7 linked regions of the Homo sapiens genome follow. The protein of the gene in region 4 purifies or fractionates together with the protein of the main gene of each other region. This does not show direct contact. Each region holds a gene or a part of one and is shown on either strand. Other genes may lie near its edges. The genes, in order: ARL8A, MRPS9, GRSF1, SLC12A9, ATL3, EMC1 and CLGN.

What was found.
Region 1: the proteins of SLC12A9 (region 4) and ARL8A purify together in Homo sapiens (affinity purification with mass spectrometry; one large-scale study listed by BioGRID and IntAct). This does not show direct contact.
Region 2: the proteins of SLC12A9 (region 4) and MRPS9 purify together in Homo sapiens (affinity purification with mass spectrometry; one large-scale study listed by BioGRID and IntAct). This does not show direct contact.
Region 3: the proteins of SLC12A9 (region 4) and GRSF1 purify together in Homo sapiens (affinity purification with mass spectrometry; one large-scale study listed by BioGRID and IntAct). This does not show direct contact.
Region 5: the proteins of SLC12A9 (region 4) and ATL3 purify together in Homo sapiens (affinity purification with mass spectrometry; one large-scale study listed by BioGRID and IntAct). This does not show direct contact.
Region 6: the proteins of SLC12A9 (region 4) and EMC1 purify together in Homo sapiens (affinity purification with mass spectrometry; one large-scale study listed by BioGRID and IntAct). This does not show direct contact.
Region 7: the proteins of SLC12A9 (region 4) and CLGN purify together in Homo sapiens (co-immunoprecipitation; 2 studies listed by BioGRID and IntAct, with this or other methods). This does not show direct contact.

What each region holds. Positions count from the first base shown.
Region 1 is NC_000001.11:202,137,752-202,141,984, forward strand, and holds part of ARL8A (ADP-ribosylation factor-like protein 8A), read right to left. Parts: intron 698-4,233; coding exon 617-697; intron 288-616; coding exon 214-287; intron 1-213. UniProt on the Homo sapiens protein: Plays a role in lysosome motility. In neurons, mediates the anterograde axonal long-range transport of presynaptic lysosome-related vesicles required for presynaptic biogenesis and synaptic function. May play a role in chromosome segregation.
Region 2 is NC_000002.12:105,093,299-105,097,531, reverse strand, and holds part of MRPS9 (small ribosomal subunit protein uS9m), read right to left. Parts: intron 4,003-4,233; coding exon 3,894-4,002; intron 481-3,893; exon of another isoform or gene 378-480; coding exon 208-377; exon of another isoform or gene 134-207; intron 1-133.
Region 3 is NC_000004.12:70,815,158-70,819,390, reverse strand, and holds the end of GRSF1 (G-rich sequence factor 1), read left to right. Parts: 3' UTR 1-3,608; downstream 3,609-4,233. UniProt on the Homo sapiens protein: Regulator of post-transcriptional mitochondrial gene expression, required for assembly of the mitochondrial ribosome and for recruitment of mRNA and lncRNA. Binds RNAs containing the 14 base G-rich element.
Region 4 is NC_000007.14:100,858,945-100,863,177, reverse strand, and holds part of SLC12A9 (solute carrier family 12 member 9), read right to left. Parts: intron 4,129-4,233; coding exon 4,017-4,128; intron 3,294-4,016; coding exon 3,136-3,293; intron 3,029-3,135; coding exon 2,946-3,028; intron 2,041-2,945; coding exon 1,916-2,040; intron 1,787-1,915; coding exon 1,594-1,786; intron 1,442-1,593; coding exon 1,267-1,441; intron 498-1,266; coding exon 351-497; intron 1-350. UniProt on the Homo sapiens protein: May be an inhibitor of SLC12A1. Seems to correspond to a subunit of a multimeric transport system and thus, additional subunits may be required for its function. May play a role in lysosomal ion flux and osmoregulation.
Region 5 is NC_000011.10:63,629,431-63,633,663, forward strand, and holds part of ATL3 (atlastin-3), read right to left. Parts: intron 3,668-4,233; coding exon 3,596-3,667; intron 3,393-3,595; exon of another isoform or gene 2,764-3,392; intron 2,042-2,763; coding exon 1,610-2,041; intron 1-1,609. UniProt on the Homo sapiens protein: Atlastin-3 (ATL3) is a membrane-anchored GTPase that mediates the GTP-dependent fusion of endoplasmic reticulum (ER) membranes, maintaining the continuous ER network. It facilitates the formation of three-way junctions where ER tubules intersect.
Region 6 is NC_000001.11:19,245,025-19,248,524, reverse strand, and holds part of EMC1 (ER membrane protein complex subunit 1 isoform 1 precursor), read left to right. Parts: intron 1-3,494; coding exon 3,495-3,500. UniProt on the Homo sapiens protein: Part of the endoplasmic reticulum membrane protein complex (EMC) that enables the energy-independent insertion into endoplasmic reticulum membranes of newly synthesized membrane proteins.
Region 7 is NC_000004.12:140,389,313-140,393,545, forward strand, and holds part of CLGN (calmegin precursor), read right to left. Parts: intron 3,400-4,233; coding exon 3,274-3,399; intron 3,067-3,273; coding exon 2,907-3,066; intron 1,417-2,906; coding exon 1,316-1,416; intron 1-1,315. UniProt on the Homo sapiens protein: Functions during spermatogenesis as a chaperone for a range of client proteins that are important for sperm adhesion onto the egg zona pellucida and for subsequent penetration of the zona pellucida.

The sequences.
Region 1 (4,233 bases), on a different chromosome or scaffold from region 4:
TAGTCTGTTTCTTAGATTGGGTAGTGAGTGCCCAGGGCATTTATCCAATAAGAAACAAGTGGCATGCAAAATAAACGCAGGCCCTGGACCGACACTGTGTCATGAACCAAGGATTATGTCTAATAAAACCCTGCGCCTCTGAGGTCCTCGAAGGTAGCAGGGCTAGGGGGGCCGGGTAAGGCTGGAGTCTGGCGATGCCTCCCGTGTACTTACACGATGGCGCTCACTCCTCGGCAGTAGCGCTCCCACATGCTGCGGAAACGCGGCTGTCCCCCAATGTCCCAGAGCTGAGCAAGAAGAGGGTGAGATAGCCTCAGTAGTGGGCAGGCCACCAAAACGTGTCTTGGGTCTCAAATGCCCCCTCCTACCCTGCCCTACTCTCCTCTGCCTCCCCGGCTTCCTCTCCAGTTCTCCCCCGTCTCCACCCGCTCTCCGTCTACCTTAGAAGTCTTCTACTGTCTTTTCCCAGCTCCTCAGCAGGGGGACCCTGGCCTCTGCCCCACTTCAGCTCGCTCCTCCCAGGGGCCTCCGTTGCCCTCCCCAACACACACACACACACACACACACACACACACAAAAACAGTCCTCTGCACCCCCCAAGCTTCTGGGCCCTCACCTTGATAGTCACATTCCCTTTGGTGATTTTGCGCATGTTGAAACCCACGGTGGGGATCATGTCCTCGTTGAACTGTCCTGACTGGAAAGAAGACTCAGAATGGGAAACAGTGCAAAAATCGATATGCCCCCACCGCAGACCAAGAGGCTGCGAGAACCATGCAGAGGCCAGGCCAGAGCTTCCTAGACTTCCCACTGTGGGGTACTCTTGCACATCCTGTGCTTTCAGGCAGGATGGGCTATCACCAACCTATGTGTCCCGCCTACACCTGGGGATGCCCTGTGAAAAGACCCGCTTTTGTCAGACAGTCTCAATCTCTTTGCCTAGACTAGGGGAAAATTCTTCCTCAAGTCTAACCTACATCTCTCTGTAGTAACTGACGCCACTTTCTCTCCAGTGGAGAGGAAGAAGAAATTACCTTCCAGCAAGAGAACTTGAAGCAAGTCATGTTCTAATAGTTAAGGAGGATCTCAAAGAAAGCAGATGAATTTTCAAACTAAAAAATCAAACTTTTTAGGGCAGAGTATATTGGTCATCCTGAAAATGCAGTGCATGCCAAGCAATTTCTGGATTATCCATGGTTCAGTTTATTTGTACTGTACTCCAGTTATTGGGAAGGATAACCTACACTCTATATCGTCTGCTTATTTATCTATGTGTCTCCTCACTAGAAAGAACACTTCCTGGGAGAGGACCCAGGTCTATAGTAACACCATTAGTAAATGTTTGCTGAATACTGGGGGTTTGACTGTAATTCCATTTTCCAAAATCCATTCTGTATTGTCTCTAGGATTTCTGGATTCTTCTAAACTACCTACAGTCTTCAAATAAGGCCAGACCCAACTCCCTCCCAGGTCATATCTCCATGTTCACAGGTAGGACACTTCTGCTTATCCCTTGGAAGCAGGCTAAAGAGATGGGGCTCGGCCGGGCGCGATGGCTCACACCTGTAATCCCAGCACTTTGGGAGGCTGAGGGGGCAGATCACGAGGTCAGGAGTTTGAGACCATCCTGATCAACATGGTGAAACCCCATCTCTACTAAAGATACAAAAAATTAGCCGGGTGTGGTGGCGTGTGCCTGTAATCCCAGCTACTTGGGAGGCTGAGGCAGGTGAATCGCTTGAACCCAGGAGGTGGAGGTTGCAGTGAGCCGAGATCATGCCATTGTACTCCAGCCTGGGTGACAGAGCAAGACTCCGGCTTGAGAAAAAAAAAAAGATGAGGCTCATTCAACATTGAACCTGAGGGTGATAGCCCTGTTCCTTTTTTTTTTTTTTTTTTTTTTTTTTTTTCTGAGACAGAGTCTCGCTCTATGGCCCAGGCTGGAGTGCAGTGATGTGATCTCAGCTCACTGCAGCCTCTGCCTCCTGGGCTCAAGCGAGGGTCTCCTGCCTCAGCCTCCCCAGTAGCTGAGACCACAGGCATGTGCCACCACACCCAGCTAATTTTTGTATTTTTAGTAGAGACAGGGTTTCACCACATTGGCCAGGATGGTCTTGAACTCCTGACCTCAAGTGATCTGCCTACCTGGGCCTCCCAAAGCGCTGGGATTATAGGGGTGAGCCACGGTGCCCGGCCAAGCCCTGTTCCTTTACCATGCCTTTTTCTCCCACCAGCTGGTAGGAATAATTTGCCTTGGGTTACATAAAGAGATCAGGGGCCCTGACCATTAGCCAAGATGTAGGAGATGATTGGCTCTTATTTGGTGCCTCCATGTCCACATGAAGACCCCTGATATCCCATCTGAATAGACTGCTTTGATTCCCTTTTTTTTTTTTGAGACGGAGTCTCACTCTCTCGCCCAGGCAGGAGTGCAGTGGTGTGATCTCGGCTCACTGTAGCCTCTGCCTCCTGGGTTCAAGCAGTTCTCCTGCCTCAGCCTCCCAAGTAGCTGGGACTACAGGCGCGTGCCACCATGCCTAGCTAATTTTTTTTTTTTTTTTTTGTATTTTTAGTAGATTCGGGGTTTCACCATGTTGGCCAGGATGGTTTCGATCTCCTGACCTCGTGATCCGCCCACCTCGGCCTCCCAAAGTGCTGGGATTACAGGCGTGAGCCACCGCGCCCAGCCCAATTCCCTTTTATCTGCAGGAACCACCTATTCATCAGGGCCTTAGGATGATATAAGAACTGAGTACCCAGGACTGACACCCAATGACAAGGTCCAGCAGCGGTTTCCAACCTGAGGTCCACAGTTGGGCTTCAGAGATCCCCTGAACCCCCTGAAACTGTACACAATCTGTGTGTGTGCAAAGTTTTGTTTGTGTGTACATTTTTCTGGAGAAAGGGTCTCTCACTTCTTTCAGATATCAAAAAGTTCTGAGAGCCCCCAAAGTTAGGAACCACTGAGGAAGAGGGAATGGCTTCTTCTAGCTAAGCAGGGAGAATTAAGTGTGCTGTAATTACCCAAACCCCGGCAGCCTGCTGCAGTCTACCCCATCCCCAACAATAGAGTCTGAGGAAGGAGGCCCAGTTCTTGTTTGTCTCTCATCCCAGGGGGTGCTTGGATAAGAAACTTGAACTTCTCTGGACCTCAGTGTTTCTGAATGTAAAACTGGGGAGAAGGGTTTCGGTCTCCTAGGAACTGTAAATAAGACTCACAACATGCTTGGAAATGGTTTCGATATAGCATGGGGAACCATCACTGCTCTTTGGCAACTAGAAGATCCACAGGCTACCAAGTAAATGAGAAGCCCAGCCTGGCAGAATGTGACCTTGGCAGAGGGGGATGCTGGGAGGACCTTCAAGGAGCCAGGCTCCCCGGCACCAGTAGGTCTTGTTCAGCTGTGAATCGGAGCTAAGGTGGAATCAGATTATGACTTAATTTCCCTGCTAATGCCTCCCTGTCTCATAGGCTCCTCATTTAAGGTTGGAAGTAACCTGAAGTCATGCAGCCCAACCTCTTGTCTCAGACTTCAGTCCCTTCTGCCCCATCCCCTCTTGGGTCAGTTCCAACTATCAGAAAGTTCTTTATATTGAGTTAACAATCCGGCCGGACATGGTGGCTCATACCTGTAATCCCAGCACTTTGGGAGGCTGAGGCAGGCAGATCACCTGAGGTCAGGGGTTCGAGACCAGCCTGGCCAACATGACGAAACCCCATCTCTACTAAAAATACAAAAATTAGCCAGGCATGGTGGTGTATGCCTGTAATCCCAGCTACTCGGGAGACTGAGGCAGGAGAATTGCTTGAGCCTGGGAGGCGGAGGTTGCAGTGAGCCGAGACTGTACCACTGCACTCCCAGCCTGGGTGATAGAGCAACACTCTGTCTCAAAAAAAAAAAAGAAAAAAGAAAAAAAAGAAAAAAAAATCTATCATTCCTAGAATGTCCACCCATTGTTCCTAAGTCCCCTTGGGCACTCCAAGACTAGTTATTCCATAGGACAGTCTTTGACACTTTTAAATATTTGAAAATGACCCTGTTGTTTCCTAGGACAAAACATCTCCCACTTTTCTAGCATCACAACTTTTTCAGAACTCAAAGGATGTTTTAGGTTCCTTTTTTTTTTTTGAGACGGAGTTTCGCTCTTGTTGCCCAGGCTGGAGTGCAGTGGCGGCACGATCTTAACTCACTGCAGCCTCCGCCTCCTGGGTTCAAGCAATTCTCTTGCCTC
Region 2 (4,233 bases), on a different chromosome or scaffold from region 4:
CTCCCCTTTTTCTAATTCAAGCTCACCTTGTAGAAATCAAATCTGAGAAATACTGTTATGGTTCTGTAGCAAGAAAGAAGACAGCGAAGTGAAATATTACATATGTAACTATATATTTTCTTACGAACTTCAGGCACTAGGACAAGAAGCAGATGAACATGTATAGCCAGTATTGGGCCACCATGCCCGTCCCACCTAGACTCATACCTTGTCTCATCCACTCGACCTCGTCCTCGGTGACAAAGCTGCACAAGGCTTTTGCCATTGCCAGTCGTATTGCTCCAGCCTGCGCTGACCTCCCGCCCCCTGAGACTGTGCAGGTCACGTCGTGCTTTCCCAGCCGGTCAACAAAGTGGAAAGGGAACATCAGCTGTTCTCTAAAGCACAGCACAAGTAAATGTGGTTACGTTTACTATAAAGATACATAATTATGTAAACAACTGAAATTCTGAATATTCATAAAAACAATATTCTGCATGCCACTGTTATACTTTTCATACTTCTCAATCAATCCATTTTACCAAGATATAGAAACACTAACATTTCTGACATTTTGAATGATTTGCTGAGAGATTAAGATTTATTTCTTTTGCTTGGGTATAGCAACACACTCTTACTGTTTGCTGATCCCCTTTATCTCAGAAGATCTTTTCAAAGCTTGAAAATAATCTCGTAAAGAAGTCTTACAGTTGGGGAACTCCATTAATCAACTGAATTTAATGTCTCTGGATTGAATGATCAGATATAAAATCAATAGGCCTTTCCAAACAATTATCACATGTCATTTGGATTCACTAAATAAAGTCTACTATAAGTGTATCTGTATAATGTATAATGCTCATCTTGATATGGTTAGTTTTTAAAGTTTCTAAAACTATTTTCGACCTTGCACTTCCCTGACACCAAACACCTATTCCCAATATTCTTAAAGTTCTCTAAATCATAGGGTCCTGCTACCTTCCTGGGGCCAGGTGACATTCTACACAACCCCTGTCAGGCCTGCTCTTTCAGGGTCGGTCAGGGCCTACAAGATCCTGGGGCAGGCACCACAGACAAAACACGGCCCTGGACTTTCTCCTGCTCAACTGAACAAGTATTTGTTGAATATCATTTTCACGCCAGGTAAGATGTTCACCATTACCTCTGTCAAGCACTTTGATTTTGCTATTTTGCCTTAATATCTTGCTACACTTTTATGCAGAAAAGCTCACTTATATTGCGTTTGCTTTCTTTGATGCTGTAGCTTCTAGACCCAAAATCAAGTTTATATAACACAGTTAAGCTGAGAGACAGGTATGGACAGGACATTCAAGTGCTATTCTTCATACCACACTAGTAAAATAATCACAAGCAGATGGGCAAAAGATGACTTTCAAAAGCCATAGCAAATCGGAATTTATAACAATACGATGTAGGGATGACATAACTCCTACAACAACAAAAAACTCATAAATCTATACTGTCTTTTTGAACAAATGCTTCCAAGAAACCAAATGAAAAGTAGCCATAAGTTATAAAAACAGTATTATAAGTAGTATCTATTAATATACTATGATAACTAAAGAAAATTTAAGCTGAGCACCTAAAGTACAAGCTACTCAGGAGGCTGAGGTGGGAGGACTGCTTGAGCCCAGCAGCTTGAGTCCAGTCTGGGTCCAGAAGTTTGAGTCCAGCCTGGGTGACATAAAGAGACCTTGTCTCTTAAAAAAAAAAAGTAAATATAAAAGAAAATTTAGGCTGGGCGCAGTGGCTCATGCCTGTAATCCCAGCACTTTGGGAGGCCGAGGCGGGCAGATCACCTGAGGTCGGGAGTTTGAGACCAGTCTGACCAACATGGAGAAACGCCGTCTCTACTAAAAATACAAAACTAGCCAGGCATGGTGGTGCATGCCTGTAATCCCAGCTACTCAGGAGGCTGAGGCAGGAGAATTGCTTGAACCCAGGAGGCGGAGGTTGTGGTGAGCCAAGATTGCACCACTGTACTCCAGCCTGGGCAACAAGAGCGAAACTCCATCTCAAAAAAAAAAAAAAAAGAAAAAAAAAATGTACAGACTGAAAATCTAATTCCACTATTGCATTTACCTCGACCATCTGGCTCCATGACTCAGTTATATATCCAGTAATTACATTATGAAATCTATTTTTCTAGATTTTAATTGAAGTCTCTTTTTATTTATATAAGCATTTGTTAAAGAATCATAAAATTTTAAAAATTAAGCCAGGAAAGTGTTTAAGCTCCCAAACAAATGGCTGTCCAGAAGCCTCCCTTGTAACTTCACTTACGTGGCTAACCCACTTCACTGTGTGTTAGGTGATGACAGAATTCCGATCAAGATCCCTGATTCTGGGTTGGTTAGTCTTCCTATTAGTCAATGGTCACCTCACTGCTGATTTGTAAGTTCCTGAAGTGACTGCCCTAAATCCTTACAACTACTTTAAAATAGTTGTAGGTGCCCATTCCCACCAAGACTAGGCTTAGGCTTCCCAACCATGTAGGAAGTTTCTTGACAATAGGAATCATATCTTAAATATCTCTGATATCTTCACAATGCCCAGAACAAGACTGGAGACATAGATGTCCTTAGTAAAAAGCTGCTGAATTCAAACCAAAGAATAAGATCTAAAGATGTAATTTCATTATGAGATCAAGCCAGAATTGAGACTTGCTGTTAAATCATCAGGAGTTATGTCTGAATACAAATCAACAGACAGGTTATTGGTTAAAGAACAGTCCTCCTATAGTTCCCAATGTTGAAGTTATCAAACCCTGGGGTATGGGTTTCTCTCTGGCTTTTCCTAAGGGAAATAAAAGCTTCTTCCATCCCCTGTCCTGTGAGGATAATAGCAGAACTAATTCATCTTAAATGGAGTTAAGAATGCACTGCTTGTTGACACAGGCACACACAAATAAAATAAACACACATTTCCTAAAATAATTATTGTGTCCAGAAGCTTACACTGTATTAGGAGGGTCCTCTTTTGCCTATATCAGCATTGGTATCAAAAGAGTTTTAGCCCTTTTGACCTTAAATACCGTAACACATGCAGGAAACAGGAGAAGGATTAGGAAAGGAGGAACTAATCATACCAAACTTCTGTTACTCGTGGATAATGACAGTAAGTACTGGGAAAATAATAACCATATCAAGAAGAGGCCTTTATATAGCAAGTCAGAGAGAGTTCTGAGATGAGTATATTTAGATTAGAAGAGCTGTAGTATCTATTTATGATTAATGTCTATTTCTCCATAGGATACAAAGTTTAAAAATTAAAACTGCCATATTTAGCACCCAGAACTAAGCAAAGCCTGATGAGTTCTTATTTTAACCCATAAATGCTAGGTTTCTTTGCTTGCTCAATATATATAATCACATTCCTCTGAATAGGAAAAAATCCAAAATGATAAAGCAGAATTTTTCTAATATTTATGATCAGAAAAACATACACAAGCCACAAGAAATTACTTGCACTTTTCTTTGCCTTGTGAGTTAGGTCAGTTTTAAGTGCCAAGGCTGGTTGTTGTGGTGGTGGTTTTGTTTTGTGCACGCCCATCCCCAAACTAGAAGGTGGAAATCTAAATCAAAATTTTTTACATTTTGGCACAGTCTGCACTTCAGAACATAAGCTACATCTAAGACTACTCAAACTGCAGTAGGATCTGATGAAAAGGGGAAGAAGAGTCAATTAATGAGGAATTCTAGAGATGCTTTTTAAAAAATCTGGAAGCTGCTTTAAAAAATAGCTTCAATTAGCTAGTTTGATATGTTACATTGGTAAAGAGAAATAATCATTCAGATAAACAGAATTAGAAGATCACAAGCCTTCTTAAATGATCATGATGTATTATAAAGTATGTTTCCTTTAAAAACAAAAAATCAGAACCCAAAACGAACCTGTCCTGTGTGATCGGGAAGTAAAGCTGGTAATCAATTCCATTTACTTTTATTCTTCCACTTCCATGTTTATAAACAATTGCTTCTGCTTTTGCAGTCTTTCTTTTACCTTCAAAAATATAAAATTCCTATTAGTAAATATCTTGAAGACCTGCGCTTTGAGACAGGTAAAACTACATTAAAATTTGTTTCCCCAAAATAATACACAACACTGTACATAAGCAAGTCCTATAACTATTATTTCAAGTCAAACAAAAATAAAGCAGGTAAACTACAGCACAACAGATGCAATAAAGCTCATTGTGGGGTAATTTTGTTCTTCAATTCCATTTTAGAAACA
Region 3 (4,233 bases), on a different chromosome or scaffold from region 4:
AGCTTAACATCATCAGTAGTACTGCCTAGATGGAAATGCGTTTTCATATATGGTTGAATATGCCAAGCTATGAGAACTGGTATCTGTAGTTGTACGAACTATTAGAATGTGATCTTTGTTGCTCTTTCACATTTGGTATCTGATTTGCTGTGGAAAAGATCTGTGGGGCCTACTGTGAGGAATTCATCTGCAATTGATTTAAGCTAATGAGTTTTATTTGCACATCTCTGGAAAAAGAATGCAAGCAAAGCATTAAAATGCTATATGATGGATGGGTAAGGTTGAAAGGATATATCTTCTTGGCACGCTACAGGCTGAGTTTTCTGTACAAAATGTGGCCATTATTGGGAAATCATTTTATGTATTTGAATGCTCCCTTTTGTTTTTGTTCATGATCTAGGCTAGTACGTAAGTGATTGCTAAGGTGGATGTAGTTATGGGAAAGGAAGAGAAGCACATAATACAGTAAAAGTAATCTTATTTCCATGCAAGTGGAAGACGGTACCGTCTCCCCACATTTGAGAAGACTGTTTTGCATCACTCTTTGCTATTGAAGGAAGCAGTGATGGTGAATTTCCTTCTGTTTGGGTTCCTTGTGTCTATAACTTCCTTTGTGGTAAAGCCATCAGGAAGAATAGTGGGAGTGGGGCATATGGTCAGGGTGCTCATATCCTGCTTTAGCCTAGCTGCTGCTTACGGAGTGCAAGGGAGAACTCTGAGAAGCAGTATGTAAATACCAGGGAGCTGATTGCTGAATATTGTGGTCTCATCTGAATATTGTGGTCTCATCTAAATATTGACACCAGGCAATGAAGCAGAAATAGAGTATGTGTCCCTTTATGCGTGGGTAACTTAAGCTTCTGTCATGTGGGAAGGGGGACCGAATCTTCCCTGGGAGGAAGGCTCCAAATTCTCACTACTTCTGTGTTACTTGAAGGGGGAAGCATAAGGAACCCAGTTTGAAGGCAACATTGTGTGCCATGAATCTGCTTATTAATCAACATGCCTTGTTAATGTCCTCTGCCCTGAACAGCCCTTACTCAGTTCTCATTTGGAAAGTTATTTTTTGGGGTTACATCCTGTTTGTTTCAGAATTTAAAACCCTCCATGGTGGGTCACTTGAGGTCAGGAGTTCAAGATTAGCCTGGCCAACTTAGTGAAACTCCGGCTCTACTGAAAATGCAAAAATTAGCCAGGTGTGGCACACGCCTGTAATCCCAGTTACTTGGGAGGCCAAGGCAGGAGAATCGCTTGAACCTGGGAGGCAGAGGTTGTAGCGAGCCAAGATCACACCATTGCACTCCAGCCTGGGCAACAGAGTGAGACTCTGTCAAAATCAAAAAAACCAAAATACAAAAAACTCCATTGTTCTGAGAGTTTCCCCTAAATTATCGGAAGACACTCACATTGAATTGGTAGGACCTATAGTATAGAGGAGAATGGTATGTATGTCAGCAGTAGAGTTCCAATCCAAATTGCGCTATCGCATTAGAAATACATTACCCTCCCACTCCCCAAGTTCAGCAAATTAGAAGAGAATCTGAAGTTTGTAGGAAGGGAATAAAGCTGCTATAAACATTTATGTGCAGGTTTTTGTGTAGACTCGTTTTCAGCTCCTTTGGGTAAATACCAAGGAACCAGGTTGCTGGATTGTAAGTTAAGAGTATGTTTAGTTTTGGAAGAAACTGCCAAACTGTTCCAACATGACTATTTTGAATTCCCATTGACAATGAATAAGAGTTCCTGTAGCTCCTCACCCTCATTAGTATTTGGTGATGTCACTCTTGCATTTTAGCTAATGGGTGAATAGTGGTCTCATCGTTTTAATTCCCAATCCCATAGTGATGTGGAGCACCTTTTCATATACTTAATCTGCCATCCTTATATCATCATTGGTGAGGTGTCTGGATTTTCTGTCCAGAATTTTAGTTCTAGTGGTTTTCTTATTTTTAGAAAGGAAGTATAGGAAGGAAGGTTTAATCTGTCTTAAGCCTGATTATATGAAAATCAAGAATAGGCTAGGTGTGGTGGCTGACATCTGTAATCCCCGCACTTTGTGAGGCTGAAGTGGGAGGACTGCTTGAGCCTGGGAAGTCAAGCCTGCAGTGAGCCATGACTGTTGCTGCACTCCAGCCTGAGTGACAGAGTGAGACCCTGTCTCAGAAAAAAAAAAAGCAGGCTCATTTTAAAGTTGTTTATATTTTATTTTTTGAAGGAAATAAACTTGAAGAGATACAAACGGTAGTGAAGATTCTCCTTCCCCTCCTGTAATTCAGCTGTTTAGTTTCTATTCTCGCACAGCCCTGTTATCAGTTTCTAGTGTAAGCTTGCAGTGACTTTTACTTTATTTATAAGCAAGTGTTAGTGGGTGTTGTCATTTCTTTTAAAAATATAAATTATACTGTACATGCTATTTTGTATTTTGGCTTTTCTCCCACCTAAACACCCTAAAGATCATTTTCTGTCAGTATATAAAATCTTGGTGATGCCAATACCCATCCCTTAGATTGTACAAGCAGCATTTTGCCATGCTTTATCCCATAGCCTGCCTCCTGCAGTCTCATCTTTTTTTCTATATGCATGTCCAAGTAAGTTGTAGACATTTTTCACTTTTAATCCTTTCAGCATACATGTCATGGGAATTTGTTTTTGTTTTTGTTTTTTGTGTTTGAGACAGTCGCTCTGTCACCCAGGCTGGAGTTATAGTGACGTGATCCCAGCTCATTACAGCCTCCACCTCCCAGTTTCAAGCAATTCTCATGCCTCAGATTCCCGAGTAGCTGGGATTACAGATGTGCACCACCACGCCTGACTAATTTTTGTATTTTTAGTAGAGATGGGGTTTCATCATGTTGGCCAGGCTGGTCTGGAACTCCTGGCCTCCAGTCATTTGCCTGCCTCGGCCTCCCAAAGTGCTGGGATTACAGGCATCAGCCACCACACCCAGCCGTCATTGGAGTTTTTTTGAGGGAGATTTGCAGTAAGGTGAATAAATGTTAAGTGTATCATTTGATGAGGTTTTTTCTTTTTTTTTTTTTTTTTTTGAGATGGAGTCTTGTATCGCCCAGGCTAGAGTGCAGTGGCCTGGTCTTGGCTCACTGCAACCTCCACCTCCTGGGTTCAAGGGAGTCTCCTGCCTCAGCCTCCCGAGTAGCTGGGATTACAGGTGTGAGCCACCATACCCAGACTCATTTGATGAGTTTTGATGTAAAAGCATGTAACTCAAACCCCTATGTCTGGAACATCTGTATTACATCTGAATTTTTTCACCTAGTCAATTCCTGCACCTCTCTCTCCTGTCCCTTCTTCCCTCCCCTGGCAGTCAGCTACTGTTAGGATTTTGTTCACTGTAGATTAATTTTGCCTATTCTAGAACTTCATATAACGGACTCACTTATGCAGTATGTATTCTGTAAGTTCCTTTTACTCAGCATGTTTGTATGTTCATCAGTGTGTTTAAGCTTTGTTCCTTTTTATGGCTGAGCAGTGTTCTATGTATGAATGCCACATTTTAACGTTTCACCTGTTAGGTGAACAACTAACTGGTGAACAATGGGCTGTTTCTAGTTTGGGGCTATCATGAATAAAGTTGGTATGAACATGTACAACCTTTTTGTGAACCTACATTTTAATTTAATTTAATTTGGATAAGTATTTAGGAGTGAGATTATCCTGAGTTGATGTATTTTAAATTTTACTAGAAGACGACAAACCTTTTCCTAAATGGTTATCCTGGTTTACATTCCCAGAGTTCTAGTAGGTCCATATCCTTACCATTTGCTGTTGTCAGTCTATAATTTTAGCCATTGTGTAGTGGTATCTTCTGGTTTTAATTTGCATTCCCTGACAATGAATAGTACTTTTTCATAAGCTTACTAGCCATTTGGATATCTTTAGTAAAGTTGAAGTGTCTGTTTCTTCTCTTATTCAGGATGTTTTGCCATCCATTTATTTTTTTCTTATTTGCTGAAGAAATAAGATTAACCTGTAGGTTTCCATAATCTGAGTTTGGCTGATTGCCTTTGTGTGATGTTTATTAACCGCTTTTCTATTGGCTTTGGTCTTTTAACTAATCTGCAGGAGTACTTTGTTCCTATAGTGAGCTTTAAATACCTTTTCCCCCCAGTTTGTCCTCTTTGTTTGCTCATGATGGCAGAAACTATTTTTACATCGCTGAATTCTTAAATCTCCCCTTTTATAGTTTCAAGGTTTTATGTCAGCATTAGAACATCT
Region 4 (4,233 bases):
CAGGAGAATCACTTGAACCTGGGAGGTGGAGGAGGCAGTGAGCCAAGATCGTGCCACTGTACTCCAGCCTGGGCAAGACAGAGTGAGACTCCGTCTCAAAAAAAAAAAAAAAAAAGAAGAAGGAAAAAAAACCCACAACATCGCCCACCCCATCACTAGTCCCTAGCATCTCCTATTAGACCTTATCACACACTGTCTGAGGCTATTATCTTTGAGCACTGTCTTATCTCCTCTCGACTATAAGGTCCTTTTGCAGTTTGCAATCTGTGGCTGACTCTCTAGGGGAGGGGAGCGGAGATTTGAAGTGGCCACAGAGGAAGGCCGAGGGCATCCAGGGAGAAGCAGCTCACCGAGGCCGGAGATTCGCAGCAGATGCTGAGCCCCCTGGCGCACGGAGGGTGAGAGGGTTAGATCCACAAAAGCCTTCACCTGGGCACGGTCCACCAGGCTGAGCCATGCCCCATACTGCGGCTGTACAGGGTCCGAGGGCAGGGAGTCTACAGAGAAGATAAGGAAAGGAAGGTAGCCAGTGTTGTCCAAACTCAATGTCTCCTAGAGTCCAAATCACAGACGGGCCTGGGCAGGGCTATGGCTACTTGGAGGGGTCATGGGAAAGGATAAAAGGGGCAGAGGGGCTGGTGTCGGGGCTCATGCCTGTAATCCCTGCCCTTTGGGAAGCCAAGGTGGGAGGGCTGCTTGAGCCAGGAGTTCCAGACAGCCTGGGAAACATAAAGAGACCTCATCTCTACAAATGAGCCAGGCCTGGTGGCACACACCTGTAGTCCCAGCTACTCAGGAGGCCAAGGCAGGAGGATTACTTGAGCCCAAGAGGTTGAGGCTGCAGTGAACTATGATGGCACCACTGCTCTCCAGCCTGGGTGACAGAGCAAGACCTTGTCTCAAAAAAAAGCGGGGGAGGGGTTCTGGCCGTGGTGGCTCACACCTACAATTCCAGCACTTTGGGAGGCCGAGATGGGCGGAGCACTTGAGGTCAGGAGTTCGAGACTAGCTTGGCCAACATGGTGAAACCCCTTCTCTACTAAAAATACAAAAACTAGCCAGGCATGATGGTGTGTGCCTGTAATCCCAGCTCAGGAGGCTAAGGCAGGAGAATTACTTGAACCTGGGAGGTGGAGGTTGCAGTGAGCCAAGATCGTCCCACTGCACTCCAGCCTGGGCAACAGAACGAAGCTCCATCTCAAAAAAAAAAAAAAGGTAGGGGGAGAGAAGGATGGGAGTGAGTGAGTGAGTGGGAGGGCAGCTCACCGAGGTCTCCCAGGGTGACGTGGCCCAGCACATACAGCCCCCCCTTCTTAAGCTGGTTGGCCAACCGCAGCAGAGGCAGGGCGCCCCGGGGGTTCCCCACCAGGAGCAGCAGCTGGGGCCGCCAGAACTTCACGTGATCCTTCCGGACGTCCAGCCGAAGCAGATACTTACGCACCTGGGTATAGGGGTGAGGCAGTGGGGAAGTGGCAGGATCAAATGCACAGCCCCGTTCAGCGCCTCCTGGACGGGAGCACCAACTCCAGCCAAAGAGAGAGGGGGTTCTTTGACCACCTCCCATTTCCCCACCGCCCCACCAGCTCCCCATACCTGGTGGAAAAGCAAGGCCTGGCTGACATAGCCCCAGCTACTGGGGCCTCCTCGCGCGGTGAGCAGGGCAGCCAGCAGACCCATGAGGAGCAGGGAGCCACCAGCCGCGCCAGGACTGATGAGGAACATCATGAGCAGGCAGGAGGCCACCCCCAGCAGGCAGGTGTGCCAGGAGAACAGGCTGAAGGTGGGGCTGCGGGCATGGAGGGGAGGAGGGACAGAAACTCAGGGCAGGCCGCACACGAGGCTGCAGTCCCCAGCCCCACGCCTGAGCCCGAGTCCTCCCTTCTTCTCTCTGGGGACACAGATCTGAGTCTCTCACCGGAAGTTGGGGGCCGAGGCCCACTCCAGGCTCAGGCAGGACAGGTCCACGGCAGCATAGGCCACCAGGTAGAAGACAGTGACCACAGCAGCCAGTGTGTTCAGCTTCCCAGCCAGGAGCACCAGCTGGGCAAGGGCCAAGAGGCGTGCCGTTGTTCCAAAGTGCCAGTGCACCCCCAAAATGCCAGTGAACACCAAAGAATGCCAGTGTACCCCAAAGTGTCAATGAGCCCCAGAAAGTGCCAGTGAACCCTGCAAAGTGCCAGTGCACCCCCAAAGTGTCAATGAACCCCCAAAATGCTATTAAACCCCAAAAGTGCCAGTGCACCCCCAAAGTGTCAATGAGCCCCTAAAATGCTATTAAACCCCAAAAGTGCCAGTGTATCCCCAGTGTCAGTGAACCCCAGAAAGTGCCAGTGTACCCCCAAAGTGTCAGTGAACCCTGGAAAGTACCAGTGAACCATGCAAAGTGCCAGCGCACCCCCAAAGTGTCAATGAACCCCAGAGAGTGCCAGTGCACCCCAAAGTGTCAATGAACCCTGAAAAGTGCCCGTGAGCCCTGTAAAGTGCAAGTGCACCCCCAATGTCAGTGATCCCCAGAAAGGGCCAATGCACTCCCACAGAGTGCCACCAAACCTCCAAAGTATCAGTGAACCCCCACAAAGTGTTGGTACATCCCACAGAGTGCCAGTGAATCCCTCAAAGTGCTGGGGCACCCCACAAAGTGCCAGTGAATACTGAAAAATACTAGTATACCCCAAAAAGTGTCAGTGAACCCTGCACAATGCCCGTGTACCCCAAAAAGTGCCAGTGAACCTCCCAGGGTGCCAATGAACTCTGCAAAGCACTGGGGCAACCTGCAAGGTGCTGGTGAACCCCACAAAGTGCCAGTGAACCCTGCAGAGTGCCAGTGCAACCCCAAGTGCATACGCATTTGTCTTTACATTTGTCTCCCAGCCTGCATCTAACTGCACCCCCATCCTGCCAGCTGGTGGGGTGAGGGAAAGGGCCCCTTGAAGAAGAAGGCTCACCTGCACCAGGCCCCAAGAATAAAGTACAGCTGCCCAGGGGTTTCCCCCTCGGGACACAACCTTGGCCGGTGCCAAGATCACGCCTAGAAAAACAGAATCCACAGCAGACACATCAGCCAGGGCTCAGCGGGGACGGAGAGACAGACAAGGGAGGGCGTGCTCCAAGCCAGCAAGGAGGCAGAGAACCCACCAAAGAGGTCATCCCGGGCCAGGGCATGGAGGATGCGGGAGGCACCAATGAGCGAGCTCATGGACGCTGAGAGCGCTGTGGCATAGATTCCGATCAACACCAGTGGGGGCCACAGGCTGATGGCGCGGAAGAACCCATAGTCTTCCTGCAGCAGGGTCCTAGGAAGGAGGAAAAGGAGGACACGGATGATCATGCGTCACGGGGTAAGAAAATCTCCAGCCCCGATCTTAAGGATCAGACTCAGATATCAAATGTGCTAAAGGGATATGCCTGGTATTCATTGGGCAGCCTTGGATTTAATCACTCAGTGGTCATTCCTTCCTTTTTTTTAAGAGACAAGGTCTCACTCCAACCCCCAGGCTAAAGTGCAGTGCTGTAATCATAGCTCACTGCAGCCTCGACCTCTTGGACTCAAGCAATCCTCCCACCTCAGCCTCCCAAGTAGCCAAGACTACAAGCATTTGCCATCACACCTGGCTAATTTTTGTATTTGGGGGGAGGCTCTTGCTCTGTTGCCCAGGCTGGTCTGGAACTCCTGGGCTCCAGCGATCCTCCTGCCTCAGCCTCCCAAAGTGCTGGGATTACAGGTGTGAGCCACCGCACCCGGCTGTCATACCTAATGGTATATGCACAAGAGGCCAAATATTTGTGGAAATGCAAACTGGGTAGAAAGCCACTACCCACCCTCACTCCCAAGCTAAGTGCCTGCAACAGTACTGGGTCCATGGCAGCTGCTGGCTATAGGTTGTCAATCGCCGGTAGCCACCCTCCACCCCAACAAGCTGGGTTTCTGCTTCCCAGTCCCCCAGCCTGTGTTTCCCCTTGGTGACCCAGGTGCACCAATCTTGTTCGACACTCCACCCCCATCCCTCCCCAGACACCTGTCACAAGTGAAGCTGGAGAGAAAGAAAAGCAGGACATAGACGAAGAAGGTGTAGGCGACGGCGACGATCGTGCCCAGAGGGATCGCCCGGCTGGGGTCCTTCAGCTCCCCTGGAGAGGGGGAGCAGAGGGAGTGAGGTCAGCCCTCCAGCCATCCCCCTGGGTCCCTCACGGTGGCAGCCCCAAACCCCCAGGAGGCAGCAGGCAGGGACTCTC
Region 5 (4,233 bases), on a different chromosome or scaffold from region 4:
ATAAGTTAATAAAATACAACACAGCAACAAGAAAGTAAGTCCTTAAACTTTCAAAAACCTGTCTCCATCATCGGCATGTTACAGAAAGCAGTTGAATGAAAATGCAGGGATACAGAGAGGCTGTGGCAGCAGCTAACTCCCAAGAGAGCCAGGGGAACATCTGCTCTGTGGCTAGGGTAGGATAGGCAGCTCCTGTGGCTTCACAAGCTGCTAACCCAACTCACCTGTTCATGTTACTCAGAAAAACAAATGTATCATCTCAAAGATCTACAAAACTTGTGACCATGTCAATGTCCAAGAGCTACTGGGTTAGTCAGGTGTGGTGGCACTCGCCTGTAACACCGGCTGCTTGGGAGGCTGAGGTGGGAGGATCACTTGAGCCCAGGAGTTTTAAGTTACAATGAGCTAAGATACCAGCCTGGGTGACAAAGCAAGACCTCGTCTCCAAAAAAAATTTTATAAATAAATAAATAAGCAACCCAATAAATAAATAACCAAGCCACTGGCTTTTGGAAGATTTTTAAATAAAAAAGATACCATCCCTTTCCTAATCCAGTAGGACTCAAAACCGAACATTTTTCGTTAAGTTCATAATTTTTTCAAAGTTCTTGCTTTTCAATGAAGTAAATTAATCTAGAGGGGGTGAGAAGTGAGAATCACATAAAAATTATGTCTGAAGAGCATGTAATTAGAAGTTGCCGACCAGGCGCAATAGCTCATGCCTATAATCCTAGCACTTTGGGAGGCCGAGGTGGGTGGATCACCTGAGGTCAGGAGTTCAAGACCAGCCTAGCTAACATGGCAAAACACTGTCTCTACTAAAAAAAAAAAAAAAAATACAGAAATTAACTGGGCATGGTGTCAGGCACCTATAATCCCAGCTACTCTTGGGAGGCTGAGGCAAGAGAATCACTTGAACCCAGTGGGCAGAGGTTGCAGTGAGCCAAGATCACACCACTTCACTCCAGCCTGGGCAAAAGCGTAAAAATCTGTCTCAAAAAAAAAAAAAAAAAAAAAAGTTGCCAAAGGGGAACACAATCAGTATGTCTAAGTTGGAATGTTTTTGCATTAAAGGGCTATTTTTGGGCTGGGCACGGTGGCTCACACCTGTAATCCCAGCACTTTGGGAGGCCGAGGCAGGCGGACCATGAGGTCAGGAGTTCGAGACCAGCCTGGTCAACATGGTGAAACCCTGTCTCTATTAAAAATACAAAAACTAGCGGGCCGTGGTGGCACACACCTGTAGTCTCAGCTACTTGGGAGGCTGACGCAAGAGAATCACTTGAACCTGGGAGGCGGAGGTTGCAGTGAGCCAAGATCATGCCACTGGACTCCAGCCTGGGCAAGAGAGCACAGCGAGACTTTGTCTCAAAAAAAAAAAAAAAAAGCGGGGCGGGGGCCTTTTTAGACATGGAAACAAAATATTAAGAATAAATATTAATATCCTAAAGGATAATAAAACATACAGTCTATCAGAAAACAACAGCCAACGGAGTGGCCACTGTCTCATGTCTTCACTATGAAATTCTTCCAAACTGAGATATTTTACAACAGAAGCACAAATATCTGCCCATTATCAACCCTCAGGCTCTTCAGCAGCACCACTTACCTGCTCCAACACATATGCGGCACCAAAATCAATAGCTCCGCCCAGCTCACGATATTGACCAGAATACCTGATGTAGCCCCAGGTGAGGAGTGCTATTAACAGTAGTCCAACCATACAGTTGAACAACTGGGCTACAACCTCAAGACCTATGAAGCCAGTGAGGCCTGAGGCTATGTACAAAGCTACAATGCCCGTGAACAGCACTGCAGGGGTTCGGAAGGTGCTGAAGACGTTCTTGCTACCATTGTGCTTGCAGAAGTTCTCATATAATTCCTTGATTTCCTCCTCCAGCTCCTGCTGGTAACGAAAGCTGAAATCCTTCCCACCCATCTTCTTGGTCTTCTTAAAATGGTCCAGAGCAAGTTGTTTGAATTCACAGTGCTTCTCCTCTAGAATGTCTGGAGACAAATAAGGTTTCTCTCCCCCACAAACCTAAAAAGAACAAAGAAACAATATGTTAAAAGATCTCTTCAAAAACAAGTGCCAAATAAAACATGAAAAGATAATGAAAGGATTAGAATGTTTTAAGATGTTAACAATGTATTAATAAGTTAACTTTTAAAAGATGACTAAGACCAATAAAGTCTAGTTTCACTTCCTCTGAAAAGCACACTTAAAAAACCAGGGTGATAATATCAATTGGAAAGAGCAGTGACACTGGGACGGGTGCGGTGGCTCACGCCTGTAATCCCAGCACTTTCGGAGGCCAGGGCGGGCAGATCACTTGAGGTCAGGAGTTTGAAATCAGCCTGGTAAACATGGTGAAACTCCGTCTCTACTAACACAAAAAAAATTAGCCGGGCGTGATGGCAGGCACCTGTAATCCCAGCTACTCAGAAGGCTGAGGCAGGAGAACCGCTTGAACCCGGGAGGCGGAGGTTGCAGTGAGCCGAGATCGCACCACTGCACTCCAGCCTGGGCGACAGAGTGAGACTCCGTCTCTAAAAAACAAAAGCAAACGGTCGACTTCTGCAGGGCCCAGGTGAGAAAGGCCCACCTGTGTCCTGGTTGAGGGTCCTCAGGGTTCTTTGGGACCCGAGGATTCCTGAAATCATGGATCACCCACATACGCTTTGAGACATGCTTTAATTTTTTTTTTCTGGAAGCCCTGCGACTTCCCTAAAAATTAAATGAATTATAGAACAGATCTATGACCAATGGTGGCAGAGTCTACATAGAACTATGCTTCGTGGTGCTCTGGGGAAACCTTCTGACTTGTTGGCTATGCTATTCAGTATGGCTGTATAGCTCACTGTGCTTCTGAATACGTTGGTGGTGTTGTCATGTGTTCTGGACCATCAATGGAGCCTACAATTCAAAATTCAGATACTGTCTTTGCACAAAATCTTAGTCGACATTTTGATAGTATCCAAAGAGGTGACATTGTGATTGCAAAAAGCCCAAGTGATCCAACATCAAATATTTGTAAAAGAGTAACTGGTTTGGAAGGAGACAAAATCCTCACCACTAGTCCATCAGATTTCTTTAAAAGCTACAGTTATGTCCCAGTGGGTCATGTTTGGTTAGAAGGTGATAAATCTACAGAATTCTACAGATTCCAGTTACTATGGACCTATTCCATATGAACTAATAAGAGGACGAATCTTCTTTTAAGATTCGGCCTCTGAGTGATTTTGGATTTTTATGTGCCAGCCTTAATGGCCACAGATTTTCTGATGATTAGTAAGCATTTATTCTTTTGACTTGATTATTGTCTCCTGCTCATGTGAATTTATTACTCCCATTGAAACTATGTACTTACCAATAAACTATTTGCTATTCAAAACAAAACAAAACAAAACAAGAACAAACAAACAAACAAAGAAATGGTAATAATTAGAAGGCCCCCGTTACCAGGACAACCTGAATATAAGTTTATTGCCTCATCACTTAAAGATACATTAAGTAGGATCAAGTTGGGCTTTTGAAGTCAGCAACAATGCCCAGATTATAGATATTTCAGAATAAGGCGTATGTCCCACGTACCTCTTCCATGTTGTTATAATAAATGTCCTTGGCAGAGGCTGCAGCTGCTAAGTTGTTGGCTTCAGCAGTGGCCTTTTAAGAGAGAAAAACGTGAACTGTAAATCCTTCCTCTTTTAACATTCCTCCACAAATAACCTAACAAAAATCTTCTCTATTCCCCATTCTTCCTTTTTTATTAACCTTCTATTTTTCTAGATTTCCATATAGTTCAACTGATGAAATAGAATACACTTTTTCTGCCAAATTTTCTACCAAAAAAAGGTAGAAGTTCATATACATAGAAATATGTATTCTTATACATAAGAATCTTTAGCAAAAATTAAATCTCCAAAATTCAAGGAAAATATTATTTCCATTGCATCAATTTATTTTTTAATTGTTTAAATTTTTCTTTTTTTTTAAGACAGAGCCTCACTCTGTCACCCAGGCTGGAGTTCAGTGGTAATCTCAGCACACTACAACCTTCGCCTCCTGAATGCAAGCCATCCTCCTGCCAGTGCGTGCCACCACGCTTGGCTAACTTTTTAAGTTTTTGTTTTGCAGAGCTAGAGTCTCCCTATATTGCCCAAGCTGATGTTGAACTCCCAGGCTCAAGTGATCTGCCCACCTCAGCCTCCCAAAGTGCTGGGATTACAGGA
Region 6 (3,500 bases), on a different chromosome or scaffold from region 4:
TTACTTGAACCTGGGAGACGGAGGTTGCAGTGAGTTGAGATCACGCCACTGCACTCAGCCTGGCAACAGAGCGAGACTCCATCTCAGAAACAAAACAAAACAAAACAAAAAACAGGTTGGGCAATATGGCGAAACCCCATTTCTGCAAAGCATACAAAAATTAGCCGGGCATGGTGGTGGGTGCCTGTAGTCCCAGCTACTCGGGAGGCTGAGGTGGGAGGATCACCTAAGCCTGGGAGGTCGTGGCTGTAGTGAGCTGTGATGGTGCCTCTGTACTCCAGTCTGGGTGACAGAGTAAGAGCATCTCAAAAAACAAGCAAACAAAAAACAAACTAAGACACAAACACATTAGCCTGGGCCTAAATAGGGTCAGGATCATCAATATCACTGTCTTCCACCTCCACATACTGTCTTACTGGCAGGTTTTCAGGAGCAGTAACACCCATGGAGCTATCATCTGTGATAACAATGCCTGTTTCTGGAATACCTCTTTTTTTTTTTGGGACAGAGTCTTACTCTGTCGCTCAGCCTGGAGTGAAGTGGCATGATCTCAGCTCACTACAACCTCCACCTCCCGGGTTCAAGTGATTCTCATGTCTCAGCCTCCCAAGTAGCTGGGACTGTGGTGCACAGCACTATGCCTGGCTAATTTTTGTATTTTTAGTAGAAATGGGGTTTCACCATGTTGGCCAGGCTGTTCTTGAACTCCTGACCTCAGGTGATCTGCTCGCCTCCGCCTCCCAAAGTGCTGGGATTATAGGCATGAGCCACTGCGGCCAGCTTGGAATACCTCTTGAAGCACCTGCATGAGACTATTTTACAGTTAATTTTCTTTTAATAAGTAGAAGGAGTACTCTAACCATAAAAAGTAGATACGTAAACCAGTAACACAGTCATTTATTATCATTGTCAAGTATTATGTAGTATACATTATTGAATATGCTGTACTTTTATACAGCTGGCAGTACAGTGGGTTTGTTTACACCACCTTCACCGCAAACGTGATTAATGCATTCGACTACAATGTTATAGCAGCTACAATGTTACTAGGTTATAGGAATTTTTCAGCTCCATTATACTCTTGTGTGACCACCACTGTATATGCTGTATATGCGATCAATCATTGACTGAAACATTGTTTTGCAGTGCATGACTGTATAGTAAAACGTTAAAAGTATATGTACAAAGCTGGGCACAATGGCATGCACCTGAAATCCCAGCTACTTGGGAGGCTGAGATGGGAGTATTACTTGAGCCCAGGAGTTCAATCCAGCCTAGGCAGCACAGTGAGATCCCATCTCAAATAATAAAAAGTGTATCTATAGTGGTGGTTGTATTAGTTTTCTCAGGCTGCTATAATGAAATACCATAGACTAGGTGGCTTAAACAATAGAAATTGATATTCTCACAGTTCTGGAGGCTGGAAATTCAAGATCAAGGCATTGGCAGGTTTTGTTTCCTCTGAGGCCTCGCTCATTGGCTTGCAAAAGGCTGCCTTCTTGCTGTATCCTTACATGGCCTTTACTGTGCTTACACATCCCTGATGTCTCTTCCTCTATTGGATTAAGGCCTCACCCTTTTGACTTTATTAAAACATAATTACATTTTTAAAGGCCTTGCCGTCAAATACTGTAACACTGGGGGATAGGGTTTCAACACAGGAGTTTTTGAGGATACAATTCAATCCAGAAGAGTGATATATTACATTTTAAAATTTTTATTATTTATTTATTTTTTATTGTTTTGAGACAGAGTCTTGCTCTGTCACCCACGCCGGAGTACAGTGGCATGATCTTGGCTCACTGCAACCTCCGCTTCCAGGGTTCAAACGATTTTCCTGCCTTAGCCTCCCAAGTAGCTGGGATTATAGGTGCCCATCACGCCCAGCTAATTTTTGTACTTTTATAAGAGATGGAGTTTTACCATGTTGGCCAGGCTGGTCTCAAACTCCGGACCTCAAGTGTTCGGCATGCCTGGACCTTCCAAAGTGCTGAGATTACAGGTGTGAGCCACCGTGCCTGGTGGAGATTTTTAAATTGTTATAAGTGTTCCCCCCACCCACTCATTTTCTGTAATAAGGAGGCATTACTTTTATATCCAGATAAAACAACAGTATTTTATTTACTTATTTATTTGAGACAGAGGCCCACTCTGTCGCCCAGGATGGAGTTCAGTGACACGATCTTGGATCACTGCAACCTCTGCTTCCTGAGTTCAAGCGATTCTTTTGCCTCAGCCTCCCGAGTAGTTGGGATGACAGGCACGTGCCACCACGCCCAGCTAATTTTTGCATTTTTAGTAGAGATGGGTTCTCACCAAGTTGGCCAGCTGGTCTCGAACTCCTGATCTTAAATGATCCACCCACCTTGGCCTCCCAAAGTGCTGGGATTATAGGCGTGAGCCACTGCGCCTGGCCTGTTTATTTTTTTGAGACAGAGTCTTGTCAGGTTGGAGTGCAATGGTGTGATCTCGGCTCACTGCAGCCTCGACCTCCTGGGCTCAAGCGATCCTAATCGAGAAAATTATTAGCCTCACATGGTAGGCTACCAAGTACAAAGGAGGTGCTTGCTCTGTGCTGTTAAGAAGTGCTGTGATCTCAGTCGGGCGTGGTGACTCACGCCTGTAATCCCAACACTTTGGAAGGCCGAGGCGGGTGGGTCAGTTGAGGTCAGGAGTTCGAGACCAGCCTGGCCAACATGGTGAAACCCCATGTCTACTAAAAATACAAAAAAATTAGCCGGGCGTGGTGGCAGGTGCCTGTAATCCCAGCTACTCGGGAGGCTGAGATAGGAGAATCGCTTGAACCTGGGAGGTGGAGGTTGCAGTGAGCTGAGATTGCACCATTGCACTCCAGCCTGGGGGACAAGAGTGAGACTTCGTCTCAAAAAAAAAAAAAAGAAAGGTAAGGTGCCCTTTTGGGTGTCACTTATCTGAAGGTAAATATGTGCTTCCATTTAGAAGGAAGAGTTAGTATTATCTATTAGGAGCTAATTTTCTTCTCTTACTCTCTTTGCATCTGACTACATTGAATGGAAATCTTGCTTTTGGTCAGAGCTCTTCACTAACAAACACTTCTTTTTTTTGAGATGGAGTTTTGCTCTTGTTGCCCAGGCTGAAGTGCAATGGTGCGATCTCAGCTCACTGCAACCTCCGCCTCCCGGGTTCCAGCAATTCTCCTGCCTCAGCCTCCCGAGTAGCTGGGATTACAGGCATGCGCCACCATGCCCAGCTAATTTTGTATTTTTCATAGAGACAGACGGGGTTTCTCCATGTTGATCAGGTTGGTCTCGAACTCCTGACCTCAGGTGATCTGCCTGCCTCGGCCTCCCAAAGTGTTGGGATTACAGGTGTGAGCCACTGCGCCCAGCTAACAAACACGTCTTATGTGTCCTAAAATGAATGTGATGGTGATAGCCCTGTGATTTTTTTTCCGGAGCATTTTGTGGAATGGTGATTTTAGCTCCTTATGGTCCCCTGTACTCTTTTTTTCTCAGGAGACA
Region 7 (4,233 bases), on a different chromosome or scaffold from region 4:
AATAATTATGAAAAGGTTTCTTTTAGTATAACACATAACTAGTAGATAGTAGTAAACAATATATTTATTATTCTCTAAAATATATGTGCTATCAATCAAGTGCTATTATGAAGGTATTATATGAAATAAAGTTATAGTTATTTCTCAAGGCTATACAAAAATCGATGTATTCCAGCTCACTGACACATACACATAAGAAGACGGAAAGACTGAAAGATGGAATTAAGATGTTTTCGAAGGTACACAAAATATTTTGTAAAGTAAATGTAAATAGAATACATATTCAAGTAAATGACTGCAGGTATTATTTTAAGAAAGTCACAGCAGAAACAATGATTATTTAAAACTTGGCTCTGGAAGAAATTCTCTTCACCTAGCTCTCCCTAAATATGGATATTCATACTAAATAATGGTCCCAAAGTCCCTATAAAAACTCAGAGGGCAGGAAGACCAGCAAACAGTATGTGTACTGATTAAACATTAGGAAAGACTTAACAATAATTGCAAATTTATTTGGAGGATTTCTTTAAATAGATAAAATACAAAATTCATTTCATCACATGCAAGAGCAGGCAGAACTGTACTTTTATCCTACCTACATAGTTGGAATGTAATATGTTAGGATGGTGACTCTGTGGGGTAAGGCTACCCAGCTCTTTAAGGGCCAGAGAAAACTGGTTTTTGGTTTATGCTGGATTAAAAACAAAAAAGAAAAAAGACAGCTCTGGCTCTAATTATACTCGGGATTTCTCATTCCATAATAACTTACAAAAAAAAAGCATTGTGCAAAGTTCCATTTTATATCAGGACACAAAAAGGGGTAGACTAATAAGGGGGGAGAAAAGTTCACTAAAGATTTGAGAAAAATACCCTATCAGGCAGATAGTACTCAACTACCCAATGAATGAAATATTTTAAAACGTGAGAGTAAAATGTTGAGACAATAAAGATGTTTTACAACAGCTATAAAAATTATAATAATGATAATTATCTTTTAAATATTCAAACAATGTGTTTATTATGCTTTTCAATAGAATTTCAATGAGAAAGTCATAATTTTGGATACATGTATTCTATCTTTATATTTTGTACGCCACAGGCTTGCTCTATACTGTTTTACTAGGCATTGAGACAATATAAATTACAGTATTTTTCTTTCCTTCCTTATGGATATGTTTTAAAAACAATATAGAGGCTCTTATAAAAGCTGAGAGAAATATGGCAAAAATTCTTTCATAAATCATATTGGTGCTTTTATTGAAAAAACTTTTTATGGATAACAACTATACATAGAAACCAGCTTATTTTCTGTTACCTCATCCTCTGACCCAGACTTATTTGATTGATTACTTTCTTCTTGCCCTTCTATGATTTCAATTTCTTCTTCACTCTTTTCCTCAGGTTCACTTTCCTCTTCTAGAATACAGATTTTGTTAAAAGCAAAGACTCAATAAATTAGAATTTTGCTACTGAAAAGTATTAAATACAATAAATGGGATTTATTTAAATTCCAAGATTTATTCCAAGATTTAGAAGCAACTTCTTCCATTCAAAATTTTAAAAATTATAAATACTCATTATATTATCATATTTTATAAATGAATCATATTTGAGTTTGGGGACAAGTTTAAAAAATTCTTAAGCATTCAGTCTGTATGTAATATGAAAACCAAAAAATAATAATCTTTCCTGTGTTCCTGTCTTGGAAAATACTTCCTTTAATTTTTGGTGATCTTTTAATCTTCAATATGTTATTTACTTATGTTTGTTCTCTGTGGACATCATGCATTTTTTCAGTTATTGACCCTCCTTAGGATTCCATTTAGCAGAACCTCCAACTTTTGTCATCATTATTAACCAAAAGATATTAAGCACGTCCTAGGAGCTATATAAAGTAAAAACTCCTACCCTACCAAGAATGGGCTTTGGGGAAAGGGAAGTTGAAAAATCAACTCTACTTCTTCTACGTAGTTCCAATGTGGGACTACGTGTATAGATGAAAGTGGTGAAAGTACCTTTATACAAGCAGGCCCCTCCGATACTTAAATTCCCTCTAAATAAGGCTGATCCAGACATCAATATACTAAGCACTAAGAAGTTACAAAAACAAGGCTGGAAACTTACAACCTGAAACATTTGTTGTTTTAGATACCTATCCTAATACACACATGAACATGTGTATGTATATGTGTGTATATATATATATACTGTCTCTTAAAAAATAGATAGACACATATGTGTTTTTAAGTCAACTGTTTCATTAAGTGAGTTAAACACTGTGCTTCAAGACATTTGGCTTGGGACACTGGGCAAATCAATAGTTTTATTTCTACCTTATGTAAGGAGGTCTCAGCGGACAGCCACCAAAGGGTGACTTCAGTTCTAACATCTTCAAGAGTTTAACATAGGGTGAGAAGGGGATATAGGTTCAGCAATCCTTTCAGAAAATTAATTAAATTATTTCTTCTATATGATAAGCATCTGACTAACAATAGCTGTTGGAAGACTTGGTGTTGATTTTGTTGCTGCAATCATCTGTTTTATATCTATTCCTTTTCTACAGAGGCCATGATATACACCCTCTATCACCCTCCATCTCATCTTCTACACTCCCAGAGCCAAGAAACATCCTTGCAAAAAGCTATGGCCTATGGGATTCATTAACTGCTAGGCTCTCAAGCAACTGAACACTATTTAAATCTCCTTCTTCCTAGAATGCAAAAACTATAAACAGGGTGGCTGCTCAGAGGACTATTATTCCTTCTTGCCACAGTCACATATTCTTGGGAGATTCAGATGTATAAACTTGATAATAAACAAGTATAATAACTAGTTATTTCAAGGCCATATACAGTTTTATGAGCTTTACCCAGAGTCTCCATTATAAATCACTCTCATCATCTTACCTTTTTCAAGCATTTCACCATCATTTTGCTTTTTTTCCTCTTCCAGGTCCATTGGTTTTTCCAGGGCTGCTTTCTCTTCCTTTTCTTCTTGCTCTAGTACTCCTTTTGTTTGTGGTATACATATGTCGGTTTTTTTATACTCTGTATCTTTATGTTTTTTCTGTGGTAGTTAACATAAGTTATTTTTACTAAAGGCAGAGTGCTATTTTGAAAGTTTTTTTGCAATAATTGATAACATACATAATGAACTATCAGTAAAACTTATGAGACATTTAGTTTATTACTTTTAAGAATCGCTTAATTTATAGAACTCTTAAACAACAAGAAATTTGGGTGAAAAAAGTTGAAGGAAATCCATTTTCTTTACCTTTACTTTTCTTGGCCAACAAAATGAAGTAATTAATGCTATTGGCACTCCTGCTGTCACAAGATAAATCAACCAAAGCCATGGGTGCCCTTCAGCAGCTGCCATTAACTGTTTTAATACACCAGGCTATAGACGAGATAAGCATAAAAATGCAATTCAAATTTTACAAACCTTTACTGGGTAACACAAGATACAAAAAAACTTATTTACTCAGGCATTTTACATTAAGGAGTGATGAACTCGTAAGTAAAAGAAGTTTCATTTTCCCACCTTATACTTTGTAAAGTCTAATTTAATTATTAGCATGCATCACTGAGTGAGACTTGATAGCAGAAGGTATGTTATGACAAAAGTGGAAACTTCTAACATACTGGCAAGAAAAATGGTAATTTTCCTTTTTGGTAAATTTCAGAATAGAACTACCTTTTATGGATGTATTACCTGGTTTATTTGAAGTGATCATTCATTCTGTACTCTGATCATTCATTCTGTACTTTTAAAGAACTTACTAAAAATCATACCTCAGAATTGTTTTCTTTTTTATATAAACACATTTCACACATAAGACCCTCAGTAAGGATATTATTTCTCTTATTAAAATAAAATTTAAAAAATCAAATGTTTTAGTTACAAGAGGTTCAAAACAAGAATCCCTCTTCACCTACTCTTTTGATGGTTTTTCGCTAGTGACCCAAGGAACCAAATGTAAGGTAAGAATTTTTCTTTATAGCAACTGAATTTAATGATACATTTTCTAAGATGCATTGTGTTGAAATATTTAGCCCAACCTTTTCTAAACAGTGTTAAGGTTTCGGGAAAAAACTGGAACAGAATTTAATAATGTTAAACTATAAATTCTTTGTACATTCCTCTAAGTAAAAAATAGTTAAATAAACAGTAATATTTAGATTATCATTGTCACTTAGGTCTTGAACTGGCAAGATGACAAAGATATTAAGT